Linked DNA regions of Homo sapiens. The protein of the gene in region 2 purifies or fractionates together with the protein of the main gene of each other region. This does not show direct contact. Each region holds a gene or a part of one and is shown on either strand. Other genes may lie near its edges.

What was found.
Region 1: the proteins of LYRM2 (region 2) and ACADS purify together in Homo sapiens (affinity purification with mass spectrometry; 2 studies listed by BioGRID and IntAct, with this or other methods). This does not show direct contact.

Annotation. Positions count from the first base shown.
Region 1 is NC_000012.12:120,735,589-120,740,778, reverse strand, and holds the end of ACADS (short-chain specific acyl-CoA dehydrogenase, mitochondrial isoform 1 precursor), read right to left. Parts: intron 3,794-5,190; coding exon 3,644-3,793; intron 3,424-3,643; coding exon 3,312-3,423; intron 2,943-3,311; coding exon 2,791-2,942; intron 2,731-2,790; coding exon of another isoform or gene 2,591-2,730; intron 2,500-2,590; coding exon 2,329-2,499; intron 2,247-2,328; coding exon 2,109-2,246; intron 1,960-2,108; coding exon 1,864-1,959; intron 1,640-1,863; coding exon 1,583-1,639; intron 1,484-1,582; coding exon 1,331-1,483; 3' UTR 771-1,330; downstream 1-770. UniProt on the Homo sapiens protein: Short-chain specific acyl-CoA dehydrogenase is one of the acyl-CoA dehydrogenases that catalyze the first step of mitochondrial fatty acid beta-oxidation, an aerobic process breaking down fatty acids into acetyl-CoA and allowing the production of energy from fats.
Region 2 is NC_000006.12:89,635,748-89,642,886, forward strand, and holds the start of LYRM2 (LYR motif-containing protein 2), read right to left. Parts: upstream 3,001-7,139; 5' UTR 2,970-3,000; coding exon 2,925-2,969; intron 2,890-2,924; exon of another isoform or gene 2,785-2,889; intron 2,739-2,784; exon of another isoform or gene 2,525-2,738; intron 2,136-2,524; coding exon 1,995-2,135; exon of another isoform or gene 1,978-1,994; intron 1,607-1,977; coding exon 1,526-1,606; 3' UTR 1-1,525. UniProt on the Homo sapiens protein: Involved in efficient integration of the N-module into mitochondrial respiratory chain complex I.

The DNA.
Region 1 (5,190 bases), on a different chromosome or scaffold from region 2:
GCACTCCTGCCTGGGTGACAGTGAGATTCTGTCTCTAAAAAAAAATCCATCCCCAACAGGGGCTCAGGGTCCCTGGGCGCCCCTTTGATGACAGCTCCTAAAGTCACCGTCTCCCTCCCGCTTCCCTCCAGAGACCTCCCAGCAATGCCAGTTTGACTCTCTGCCCTGCCTGCCCGGCGGAGGGCTGTCCCCACCTCCTTTGAAATCTTTCTTTGCTCACTGTTTTCTCTTCCAGCTGCTGAGATCGACACTGGCCCAGAGGGTTAAGAGCTTGGACCTTGGCTTCAGGGGCACCTTTGCCCAGAGAAAGCCCTGCAGGCACCAGGACCAGGGCAAGCCCCCGCACTGGCTGGCCAGGGCCGCCCCCGAGCGCGCTAGTGAGCACAATGGCTGCTTCTCGAGGTTCTGTGTTCTCCCACCTGGGGCTCGAGGCCTCCACAGCTTTGCTCCCCGACTCTGGCAATCTGGGGCCTTCCTTCCTCCTGCCTGGAGGCTGGTCCTGCGTAGAGAACCCCTTCTAGCCCACTGGCCCTGCCTGGCCCACCCTCCCTCCCCAGGGGCCACTCCCTGAGGCCTGCAGGACCCAGTTCCTATTCCTGAACTGCCTCCTTGGCCAATCTGGCCTCTGCCGGAACTCAGGAACCTCCCAGGTGGCCAGGCCCCTCCCCAAGACCCCCAACACTCACAGGGTGAGACTGTCAGAGAGCAGGACTCTGTGCAGAGACCACCATCCCTCCCCGGAGCACCCAGGAGAGGGCGAGGACACAGACTGGGGGACAGGTGTGTTTATTACCCACAGTCAGTCACACAGCATGAATCACCACCCCTGCCTTCATCAGACTTTACAAAGGGCTGAGGGGCCTCTGGGCCAGCTCCATGGCCCAGCCCCACCACCTGCCCAACACCAGGACCCCAGGCCTCGTCATCCTGACCCCAGCCCTGCTCCTGACCTCTGACCTCAAGGAAAAGACAGACCCCACCAAGGGCCTGTCGCACTGGGCCTTCATGCCAGGGCACCAGGGCCCGCGGGAGGACAACTGAGGTGTCCCTGAGTGTCGCTCAGCCCCCCCACAACCCCGCCCCCAGGAGGCCAGGGCCACTTAGATGAGGAACTTGAGGCACAGTGGTGAGGAGGCGGAAAGGCCCAGAGGCGGAGCTGCCAATGGTCGGAGGGCCTCATTCCCATGTGATCTGATCTGGGTGGCAGCACTGAGCCCATCTGGGGTCCCCAGGGAGCCCCCGCCGGGCCGCCCAGTCTCTGAGCCGGGGTTGGGGTGGAGGCCCCTGGCTCCCGCGCCTTCCCGCAGTCCTGGGGCAGTCCGCCGCGGGCTCAGCTCCGGTAGCTCCTGAGCAGATGCCCGGCGATCACCAGCCGCTGGATTTCGCTGGTGCCCTCGTAGATCTCAGTGATGCGGGCGTCGCGGTAGTGCCGCTCTGCCGGCATCTCTGTCACGTAGCCCATGCCGCCCAGGATCTGGATGGCCTGAGATGAGAACAGTGGCTCAGGAGGGAGAAGACCCCGGCGTGGGGAAAGCTGGAGAAGGGGCAGCTGGCCCCCTCAGAGCTCACTGTGGACACTCACCTGGTGGCTGATGGCGGTCGCGGCCTCCGAGGCGGCCAGCTTGGCCATGGCTGCCTCCTAAACATGGGGGTACAGTCAGAGCCTTCCCTTGAGGGGACCCCTCCATCCCCTGCTCCCCCACTCCCTCAGCAGGGGAGGCCTGTGGAGCCTCCCCATGGGGCTGTAAACCCCAGGCCCACACCTCTGACCCACGGGGCCAAGGAGCAGAGACCCGCCCCAACCTCTCCCCGTCCCTGGGCCCACCACATTCTGGGCCATGGCTCGGGGACCCCTGTGGGCACCTTGATGAAAGGCTTCTTGTTATCCTTCAGCATGGCAGCGCGCCAGGTCAGCAGCCGGGCACTCTCCAGGGCCAGGGCCATGTCTGCCAACTTGAACTGCAATAGCCCCACCCCACACCACAGGTCAGCAGCTGCCCCTCCAGGGGACAGAAGGGAGGGGGAGGAGGACGGAGAGCAGTCAGGAGGCCACACTCTCCGCCCGCTGTCCAGCCTCTAGGCCCAGCTCCTAAAGCTGCCACCATTACCTGGATGACCTGGAGCTTGGTGAGGGGCGCCCCGAAGGCCATGCGATTCTCAGCGTAGTTCACAGCACAATCGAGGGCGGTCTGGGCAATGCCCAGGGCCTGGGAGGCGATGCCGATGCGGCCCATGTCCAGGGTTTGCTGTGGGGACCGCCCTGGTCAGTGGCCCGCCAGCCGGGGCGCGGGCCTGGCCTCAAGGTGCCACCCCCACTGCCGGGCTCACCATGGCTATCTTGAAGCCCATCCCTGGCTCCCCCAGGATGCTGTCCTTGGGGATGCGACAGTCCTCAAAGATGAGGTTGGCCGTGGATGAGCCCCGGATGCCCAGCTTGTCTTCTTTCTTCCCCAACGTGAGCCCAGGCGTTGGCATGGGGACCAGGAAGGCACTGATGCCCTGAAAGGAGAGGCGGGTGGTTTTCTCAGAGCTGCCCCTCAGCCACACCCTCACACCAGCACACCCAACACCAACCCGGTCCCCTCCCCACCTCCCTCAGAAGCTCAGGCCTTGACACCCTCTGCCGGCTTCTGGGGAAGGTGCAGGCTTCAGTGGCAGCTGAGGAGGGACAGGGACAGCCCACTTGCCCCAGAGCAAAAATAGGTCCAGTCGGGCCAAGGAGAGAAGGCCCTAGAAACAGAAATGACAGCAGCCCAGGATCCGGCTGAACCCCTCTCTGGGTGGGCCCACCTTGTTTTGCAGGGCTCTGTCCGTGCTGGCAAAGACCACGGCAGCCGAAGCCTCCCAGGCATTGGTGATCCAGGCTTTGGTTCCATTCAGAACCCATGAGTCGCCCTCGGCCCGGGCGGTGGTGGACGCAGCTCCTGCATCACTGCCGTTCCCTGCCCACACAGACCCAGGGCTCAGCGCACGCCCCACCCCACACAACCTAAGGGCACCAGCCTCACTCCCTCCACACCCCTGCTGGCAGACACGAAACCCTATGACTCGGGCTCCAAAGATGAGGGTCCCAAAGCTCTCAGTGATGGGACCAGAGGGCGAGGGGGGTGTGCAGGAGCTGGCGTCTTAAACCAGGGGACCCCGAAGGCAATCTTCCTCCCAGCGCCGCGGTGGCAAGAGCGCTCACCCTACCAACCACACGGGGAGCCTCCCCTCTGGCCTCCGAAGCAGTGGGCAGTTGGCCTAGCACCTTCCTCTCCTCCCCTCTGGGCCTGTCACCCTAAGGACAGGTGAGGGGACAGGGCAGGTACCTGGTTCGCTGAGGGCAAAGCAGCCAATTTTGTCACCACTGGTGAAAGGCGTGACCCACGCCTGCTTCTGCTCCTTGGAGCCAAACTTCAAGATGGGCCCCAGGTAGAGAGACTAGGAGGACAGCGGGGAGCGGTCGGAGGCCCCAGGCCCAGGCGCATCCTGCCCACCTGCGGGCTGCACCTCAGGGCCTGTTCTGTCCAGGGCCTACCCAGTAGGACCAAGGCCTGTGACGTCTCCAGAGAGATCAGGGCTGGGAGCCGAGGCCAGAGCCTGCCCGCTCACGGGAGCCTCCCTCCACCCGTGTGTCCCAGGGGCCTGGGAGGGGGCTCACGTTGTTGACACTCATGATGACTCCGGTGGAGGCGCAGCCACGGCTGATCTCCTCCATGGCGATGGCGTAGGCCAGGTAATCGAGGCCAGCACCGCCAAGCTCCTCGGGCACGTCCATGGCCAGAAGCCCAAGCCCGCCCATCTTCTTCACCTGGGCACAGGGAAGGACGGCACGCCATGGGCAGCTGCCGGGGGCGAGCCCACCCTCCCCAAGCCCAAACCCTCCTGCCCCCGAGGCAGTGCCCTGCAGAAACTCAGGCCATGTGACCCCAGCCACGCACAAGGGATCCCCAAGTCCAGAAGCTGAAGACCCAGTCCCACTGAGGTCTATATGATGGCACTTCTCATTCAAGCTGTCCTGCCCCCGCCTCCACGCCTGCTCCCCGCTCCGTCCACAGCCACGGCAGCGAGCAAGCAGAAGGCACAGGATGCTTTCAGGGAACTCAGAGGTAAGGAGCAGGACAGCGTGAGCCACACTGACCTTCGTCCAGCCCCCTCTGCACATCCACACACACGCACCCTCCCCACCACAGGGCCTCTGCACATGCCACCTCCTATCCCTCAGCTGGTTATTGCCCCTCCTCTCCTTCTGATCGCAGCTCAGGCCTCGCTGCTTTGGGCTGCCATCCCCAGCCTCGCTGAGTCAAATCCTTCAGTCCCTCTCCTGCAGCACTTCTGCGGCTGGAATTTCTCAGGGATGAACGTGCTTCTCTGGATTAAGGTCTTTTGCCTTCACCACGAGGGCACAGACTGTGTGTGCTCTTGCTCACTGCTACATGCCCAAGGCCAGTGAGAGAATGAATGAAGGATAAGAGCTTGGGACTCTTAATTCTGGGTAATAATCATATTAAGAGTGGGCCAGGAGCAGTGATCACACCTGTAATCCCAGCACTTTGGGAGACCAAGGTGAGGGGATTGCTTGAGGCCAGGAGTTCGAGACCAGTCTGGGCAACATAGCAAGACCCCATCTCTACCAAAAACAAAATAATAATAATAGTATTATTACTTTCAGGTGAGTAATATGGGAAATGTGGACCACAGAATCTACCTAACTTCAAAAAGGAACAAGTAAAACCACTTATCTCTGGGAGAGCAGGGACAGGGACAGGGACGGGGACAGGGACAGGGACGGGGACAGGGATGGGGACGGGAGGGAACCGTTGCTTTTCACGAGCCCTTTTATACAATCTCATTCCTGCAAACATGTTATTTTATTTTATTTTATTTTATTTTATTTTGTGACAGAGTATTGTTCTGTTGCCCAGGCTGGAGTGCAGTAGTGCAGATCTCGGCTCACTGCAACCTCTTCCTCCCAGGTTCAAGCAATTCTCTGCCTCAGCCTACCGAGTAGCTGAGATTACAGGTGCCCATAATCACGCCCAGCTAATTTTTGTATTTTTAGTAGAGACGGGTTTTCACCATCTTGGCCAGGCTGGTCTTGAACTCCCGACCTCGTGATCCACCCACCTCGGCCTCCCAAAGTGCTGGGATTACAGGTGTGAGCCACCACACCTAGTCTCAACCATGTTCTTATACTACCATGACTTA
Region 2 (7,139 bases):
GTCAATTTTGGTTGTAATGTATTTGTCTCTGACGTATTCTTCAAATTCTCTTTGTTTTTTTTCCTGTCATTGGAGAACTGCACCCAGAATCTTATTTTTACTACTTCCATGTGAATGTTAAGGTACTCACAGAGGTTTCATCCAGAAGTCTTCCCTCTTCTTTCTGGTAAGTGCTTCAATGTGCTCATTAAGCTTCTCTTTCTCTTCCCTTTTCAACAAAGATCTAGATTCCCAGTGGTGATCTTTTTGATGAGTTCTCTATCAAACTATGACACATCTGAAGAACGTACCTGAACAACCCTCAGGGATAATGCAGGATTTTTCGAGAAAGTTCCAGGGTATCTCCTGGTGTCAGTATACTTTCAGTCCTACACCTCAAGAGTTTTTTAATAACAGCTTTATTGAGATACAATTCATACCTTACATTTAAAATGTACAGTTCAGTGGATTTGAATATATTCAAGAGTTGTGCAGCCTACACCACAAGCTAACTGTAGGATATTTTCATCACCCTGAAAAGGAACCCTACACCCATTAGCAGTTACTCCATTCCATCTACAGCCAGCCTAGGCAACCACTAATCTTTCTGCCTATTCTGGACATTTCGTATGAATGGAATCATCATGTGATCTTTTGTGACCGGCTTCTTTCACTTAACGTTTTCAAGGTTTATCCATGTTTAGTATATATAAGTCCTTCGTTTCTTTTTAGTGCCAAATAATGGCTATGGGCATGGGGTAGAAGTGCTAACTCATACAGCAGCTGTTTCATCTTTTGAGGAACTGACCGTCTGTTTTCTGAAGTGGCTACACCATTTTACATTCCCACCAGCAATGTATGAGGGTTCTGTAATTTCTGTACATCTTCACCAAGACTTATTATTATTTCTCTTTTTAATTACAGCCATTCTAGTGAATGTGAATCTCAGGGTTGTTTTTTTTTTTTTTTTTTAGAGACTGTCTCACTCTGTCACCCAGGCTGAAGTGCAGTGGCACGACCTCAGCTCACTGCAACCTCCACTTCCTGGGTTCAAGTGATTCTCCTGCCTCAGCCTCCCAAGTAGCTGGGACTACAGGCAATGCACCACCACACCAAGCTAATTTTTGTATTTTTAGTAGAGATGAGGTTTCACCATGCTGGCCAGGCTGGTCTTGAACTCCTGACCTCAAGTGATCCACCTACCACAGCCTCCTAAAGTACTGGGATTACAAGCATGAGCCACTACACCCGACCTCATAGTAGTTTTGATTTACACTTCCCTAATGATTGTGTCCAGCATCTACTGGCCATTTGTTAGTGGTTTTTTTCTTCTTTTAAGAACTGCTGAGACATCCATAAACATTTTCAAAATGCAGGGTATGTTTTTCAGTGTTAAGGCAACTGTTCTGATGTGTTTTTCCTTTGCTCTCTATCACCAAATACTGTACATATAAATAGTAAGACTGGGCTTTGTGTTGTCCATTGTTAATCCTAAATGCAACAAAACACATGGAGACTTTGAAAATCCTTCAGAATAATGCTATAGTTAAGATTTTGCTAAAGCAAGTGTTTTTTCTAACTCCTTGAGCTGCATATTGCCTTGAGTAATCATCATCCGGATTGTATCCTGTAGAATAAAGTGAAATCTGGTTATAGTTTTACCTGGTTAAACAAGGTATAGCTATACCATTTTATCTGTTAAAATCAAGAACCAATACTACCTATTGGAACTGCTGCCTTTTAGAAAAGCTAAAAGAGTTCCACATACATACATATAAAATGTACAACATAAAAGTCAAGTGATGATGCTGAAGAGTGTAGATACTCTTTTATCTACATATTTTAAAATACTAAATTTTAAAATAATAATTTAAAATCGGTAACATTACAAGCAATGATCAAGATATACCAGCTCAGTGGCACTATATTCCAAGATGTCTGCTAAACTTAAAAAAAAAAATTCACTGATCAATAAAAAGGGTTAGGATCTGTCCTCACCATGATTTTGTTCTCACCTCTTCGGTGGCACTTTTGTTTCTTCTGAATTCTTCTCTTGCCCAATCTTTCAGGTATTTGCGATCAGAATCATTTGGAACTTGCCGAATTGTTTGCAAAATCCTTCTGTAGAGGAGAAGAACTTGTTGCCTTCTTACGAACTGTAAAAGGGAGGAGTAAATAGCAATTACTACTGCACAATCGCCAGCCTGGAAAGTTCTACTTCAGCAAACCAAGCTGTAACCAGAGTACTTCTCGTTGGTCAATTTTGAAAAAGGCAAAGAAAAACTTTTTTTTTTCTTTTTTTGGCCAGATGCAGTGGCTCAGGCCTGTAATCCCAGCACTTTGGGAGGCCAAGATGGGAGGATCACTTGAGCCCAGGAGGTCTAAGCTGAGGTAAGCCTTCATTGCGCTACTGCACTCAGCCTGGGCGAGAGTGAGGCCCTGTCTCAAAAAGATGTTTTAAAGAAAGCATCACGAGGTTCATCTGATCTTTTTGCTTACTGCTCTGTCAAACCTAAGAACCATTAAAAAATCAGGAGCTGCCTACCGGGCTGAAAAGGGCTGCCGGTCTCCTAGAAGTTGTTATTACAACGACAGCACTTTTTCTAAATTAACAGTTGTTCAAATCTTTGGTAATCTCATTTGCTGTTTGCCACAGCTCAGTGCAATAGACTTTTACCGTGGGCACTGGGCAGCTGAGGCACCGGGACTCAGGGAAATCAAGCGCCTGACGCTGTCTCACGCGATCGCACCAAACCAAGGAAGCAGCCAGTGCCTCCCGTCAGGCCCCGCGGAGCGAAGCACCGCCCCGCAGGCATCGGGCCAATCTCAGAGGGCGCGCACGCCGCATCAGGACCCCGGAACCCGCCCCGTTGGGGATAGGGACAGATGGAGAATCCAGCTCAGACCCAGGTAAGCTGCTTTGGAAGGCAGAGAACCGCCGGTACCTGCTTTAACGTTAGCGTCGCTGGGGGTAAGCGGGAAGCAGCCATGTCCACCAGAGGTCCGCCGGAGCCTCAGCGCGCAGGAGCGGAAGTGGGGTTCGACCAAGGGGTGTGGCGAGCCCGGTTTCCTAGGAGACGGCCCGCGGGTTGCTCTCGGACTGAGAGCGCGAGGCTTCGGGACTGAGCCCTAGCTGCTGCGCTGGCCGAAGTTTTCTCGTCGGTAAAATAGGATAACAGTGCACCATAGGGTCGTTTTGATAAAGAAGAAAGGTAGGGCACTTAACACAGTTCCTGGTAAAGAGAGTTCAAATGAAAGTGAAGGAGGCCGGGCGCGGTGGCTCTCACCTGCAGTCCCAAGCACTCTGGGAGGCCTGTAAGGTGCCTGTAATCCCAGCTCCTCGGGATGCTGAGGCAGGAGAATCGCTTGAACCCGAGAAGTGAAGGTTGCAGTGATCCGAGATCGCACCACTGCACTCCATCCTGGGCGACAGAGCGAGACCCTGTCTCGAAAAAAAAGTTAAGGTTTTTTTGGGGGAAAGAGGTGAAAACGTATTTAAATGTTCTTTCGAGCCTTTAAAAATGTGTATAGTTGAAAATACTAAAATTGAAAGTGTTAATTTCTTTTACAGTTTGTGTTGGTTTTTTCTCTTTCTCGTTTTTGTCCTGTTCTTTTGTAGCGCAAAGGTTTTCCGGGAGCGGTGGCCTTCATGATCATTTGAAACAAAGCTTTGAATGGCTCACCCACTTCAGTCTTAAGCACTTTTCATCACTAATAACGAGGAGCCTAACATCCCTAAGCCTCAGGCTTTTGCTTTTATTTCCTTATAGTTGTTTTATCTTTCCCACAATACACATGCCTTTGGGTTAAATCACTAGAAGTGGAGTTAGCGAATCTTTGCCATATTAATTTTCCAAGTGGTGTTGTATCGAATTAAAATAGAACGAAAAATGTTCAATTACTAGTTTACTGGGGACTTGCTTGCCTCGCCTGTTAGCATCCTGGGGCTCCCTATTCCTAGCTGTGTTCTGGCTATTTCCCCTCTCCTGGCCTATTACCTCCCCTGTAAAGTGAAATATAGCATCTACCTCAGTTGTGTATCTCTAATGTACTGAGAACAGGTCCTGGCACATGTAAGAACTCTAATCATTAGCTCTTTTGAACTTTACCAGGCATTGTATGAATGATGCTAACTGCATGATCATATTATCAATAATATATGCCAAATTTTGTCTAATACATTAGCTGTAATAGTTAATTGCTAACTTTTTAAAAGGAGTGAAGTTAAATACCCCTCGCCATTTTTAGTTATACTGTTTTTGTGAATTGTTCATGACTTGGGTCCGTTTATGATGAGGACATTTATATGGGCTCTATATTTTTTGTCATTTCTTTATACATACAGAAACTTTATACAATCATGTATTTTTGTGCCTTTTGAGGCTTTTCATTTCCCATTCAGGCCTTTGTAATTCGTTTTTTAAAAACTTTAATTTTTAAAATATTTACTCCATCTAGAATTTACTTTGGTTTACAGCATCACGTGGATCTAAGTTCTTTTCTAGATGTTAAGCTGTATCAATACCATTGATTACATAACTCATTCCTTTTTCGGGGCTTTATGATGGATGCCTTTTTGACTGTATGATAAATTCTTTTAGGGTCTGAGTAATCTGTCCAGAATTGTTTCATTTAGGGTTAAGTTTTTACTTTTTGTTTTATATGTTTTTATTATCTGGCAGGACTCTAGTTTCTTGTAAAAAATCCATTAGTACTGTTCTCTATAATCTTTAGAAATGTTTTGTATCATTTCCCTCCAAATCATCTTGTGATCTTGGTTGGAATTTTGAAGTAGTGTTGAATCTATACATTAATATGTGAGAAAGACATTTTTACATTATTTCTTCTTCCCATCAAGAAACACTCAGGCCAGGTGCGGTGGCTCATGCCTATAATCCCAACACTTTGGGATACCGAGGTGGATCACCTGAGGTCAGGAGTTCGAGACCAGCCTGGCCAACATGGTGAAACCTCGTCTCTACTAAAATACAAAAAATTAGCCGGGCCTGGTGGCGCACGCCTGTGGTCCCAGCTACTTGGGAGGCTCAGGCAGGAGAATCGCTTGAACCTGGGAGACGGAGGTTGCAGTGAGCCGAGATTGCGCCATTGCACTCCAGCCTGGGCAACAAGAGCAAAGCTCTATTTAAAAAAAAAAAAAAAAAAAAAAAAGGGCTCACTCTTGCTAGACACTGGTAATGCTGTCGTGAGTCACATATGCTCCTTGCTCAAAGACTCATGCTTTGGGCAGGAAAACCTCTAAGTTCAATATAGTGCTAACAAAGAATGCTGCAGTTCATACTGTGGGAAATTATTCTTCCTGGAGGGCTTGTCTGAGCTAGGTATTTGTCAGAAACGCAGAATCACTAAGAGGATTCCAGACAACACATGGAAACACTGGCAGGAATGCTGGGAGAGGAGGGACAGGAGAGTCAAGCAAGAGCCTCACAGGTCACATGAAGAAGCTTGAATATTACCCTCTTCACAAGGGAGAGCTTTGAAGGGATTTTCAGCTACAGAACTTTTAGAAAGATCTTGGATGTTGTGAATAGGATGAAGTGAAGCAAGCAAAGAGAAGTTACTGGCCTGGCCAGGATACCATTGAAGTAGTCCCTGCTAGAGATTAAAAGAGTCCCAGTCACAGTGCAGTAGGGGGAGGGGGAGGGATGGGACAGGATATCCAGAAGCCTGACTGGACAAGATGATTAATTAATTTGATTGGGGTATGGATAGAGATGGAGAAGGAAGTAAAGCAGATGTATAGGTTAAGTCCCAAGTTTGTAAACAGGGTGGCTGTTGGAGTGGTCATCCCAGATGGGGAATGTTGAAGGAATGGGTTTGGAATAGGGGAATTAGAACACAGTGACATCCAGCAGATGTCTGAATATAATTAAGAATACCAAAGAGTAGATTTCCTGGACCCCTGGATGGAGAATTTTACAGTCCTTTTGCTTCAGTGATGGTGGAGGCCACGGGAGTGGTGAAGAAGTTATCCAAAGTGAGATTTTATTGTTGTTGTTGAGATAGAGTCTTGCTCTGTTGCCCAGGCTGGAGTGCAGTGGCACAATCTCAGTTCACTGCAACCTCCACCTCCTGGTTCAAGCAGTTCTCCTGCCTCAGCCTCCCAAGTAGCTTGGGATTACAGGTGCGCGTCACCACACCCAGCTAATTTTCTGTATTTTTAGTAGAGATGGGGTTTCACCATATGGGCCAGCCTGGTCTCAAACTAACTCCTAACCTTAAGTGATCCACCCACCTTGGCCTCCCAAAGTGCTGGGATTATAGGCGTGAGCCACTGCACCCAGCCCCAAAGTGAGATTTTTAAGACAGCATGGAGGACTTTTGTGTTCTGCTGTCCATTCCTTAAATATCAGAACTTACTTACTTACCTATTTGGCCAAGGCCTGGGGGGTTGGGGGAGGGGGGGGTGGGCAGGATAGCACAAATGTCAACTATCAACATGGCAGATTAATTGATCACTACTCCTGCAAGCCCCTGTTGGCAGCACAAGTTGAAAATGGCACTCTTGGGTTCCTGCTTCCTGGAATTCCTACTGTCCATGATCTCATGAGCTAACCCAGGGCCAAGGGAATCACTCTGGGCACACCAGTTTGAGGTCTAAGAAAGATGGAGCTTCCAAAGGCAGATGTAATAGACTGCAGCATTGTCATAATATTGGTGTCTTTCCCTCCCAGACTCAACCCTACTGGAAGATTAAACTCCCTGCCCCATAGAGGGCTTTAGCCAATGAAATGTGAGTGGGATGCAACATCATCATTTATGGAGGATAATTAATTTTTATAAGCCTCCTTATAAGGCTACACCAACTCATCCTTTTCATTCTGCTGCAAAGCCAGCATATTATAGCTCAGCCTACCATGGACATAAATGCAAATGATAACCTTTGTAGTAAGAGCAACATGGAAGTAGGAGGGGATCATGTTAGCACAGCATCAACTAGTAACAGCTGACTGACTGATCCAGCAGAGAAGATCAGTCCCCTAGCATACCTTTTACAATCCTGTCATCTTCCATTAAGAAGAGTCACAAATTACATCAACAACAGTGGTATATGTTTTAATAGTTTTCAGAATATAAGCTGCATAGCTTTTTAGAATAAAAAATGATATAACTTCAGGTACATGCTTTGGGACACTTGGTTA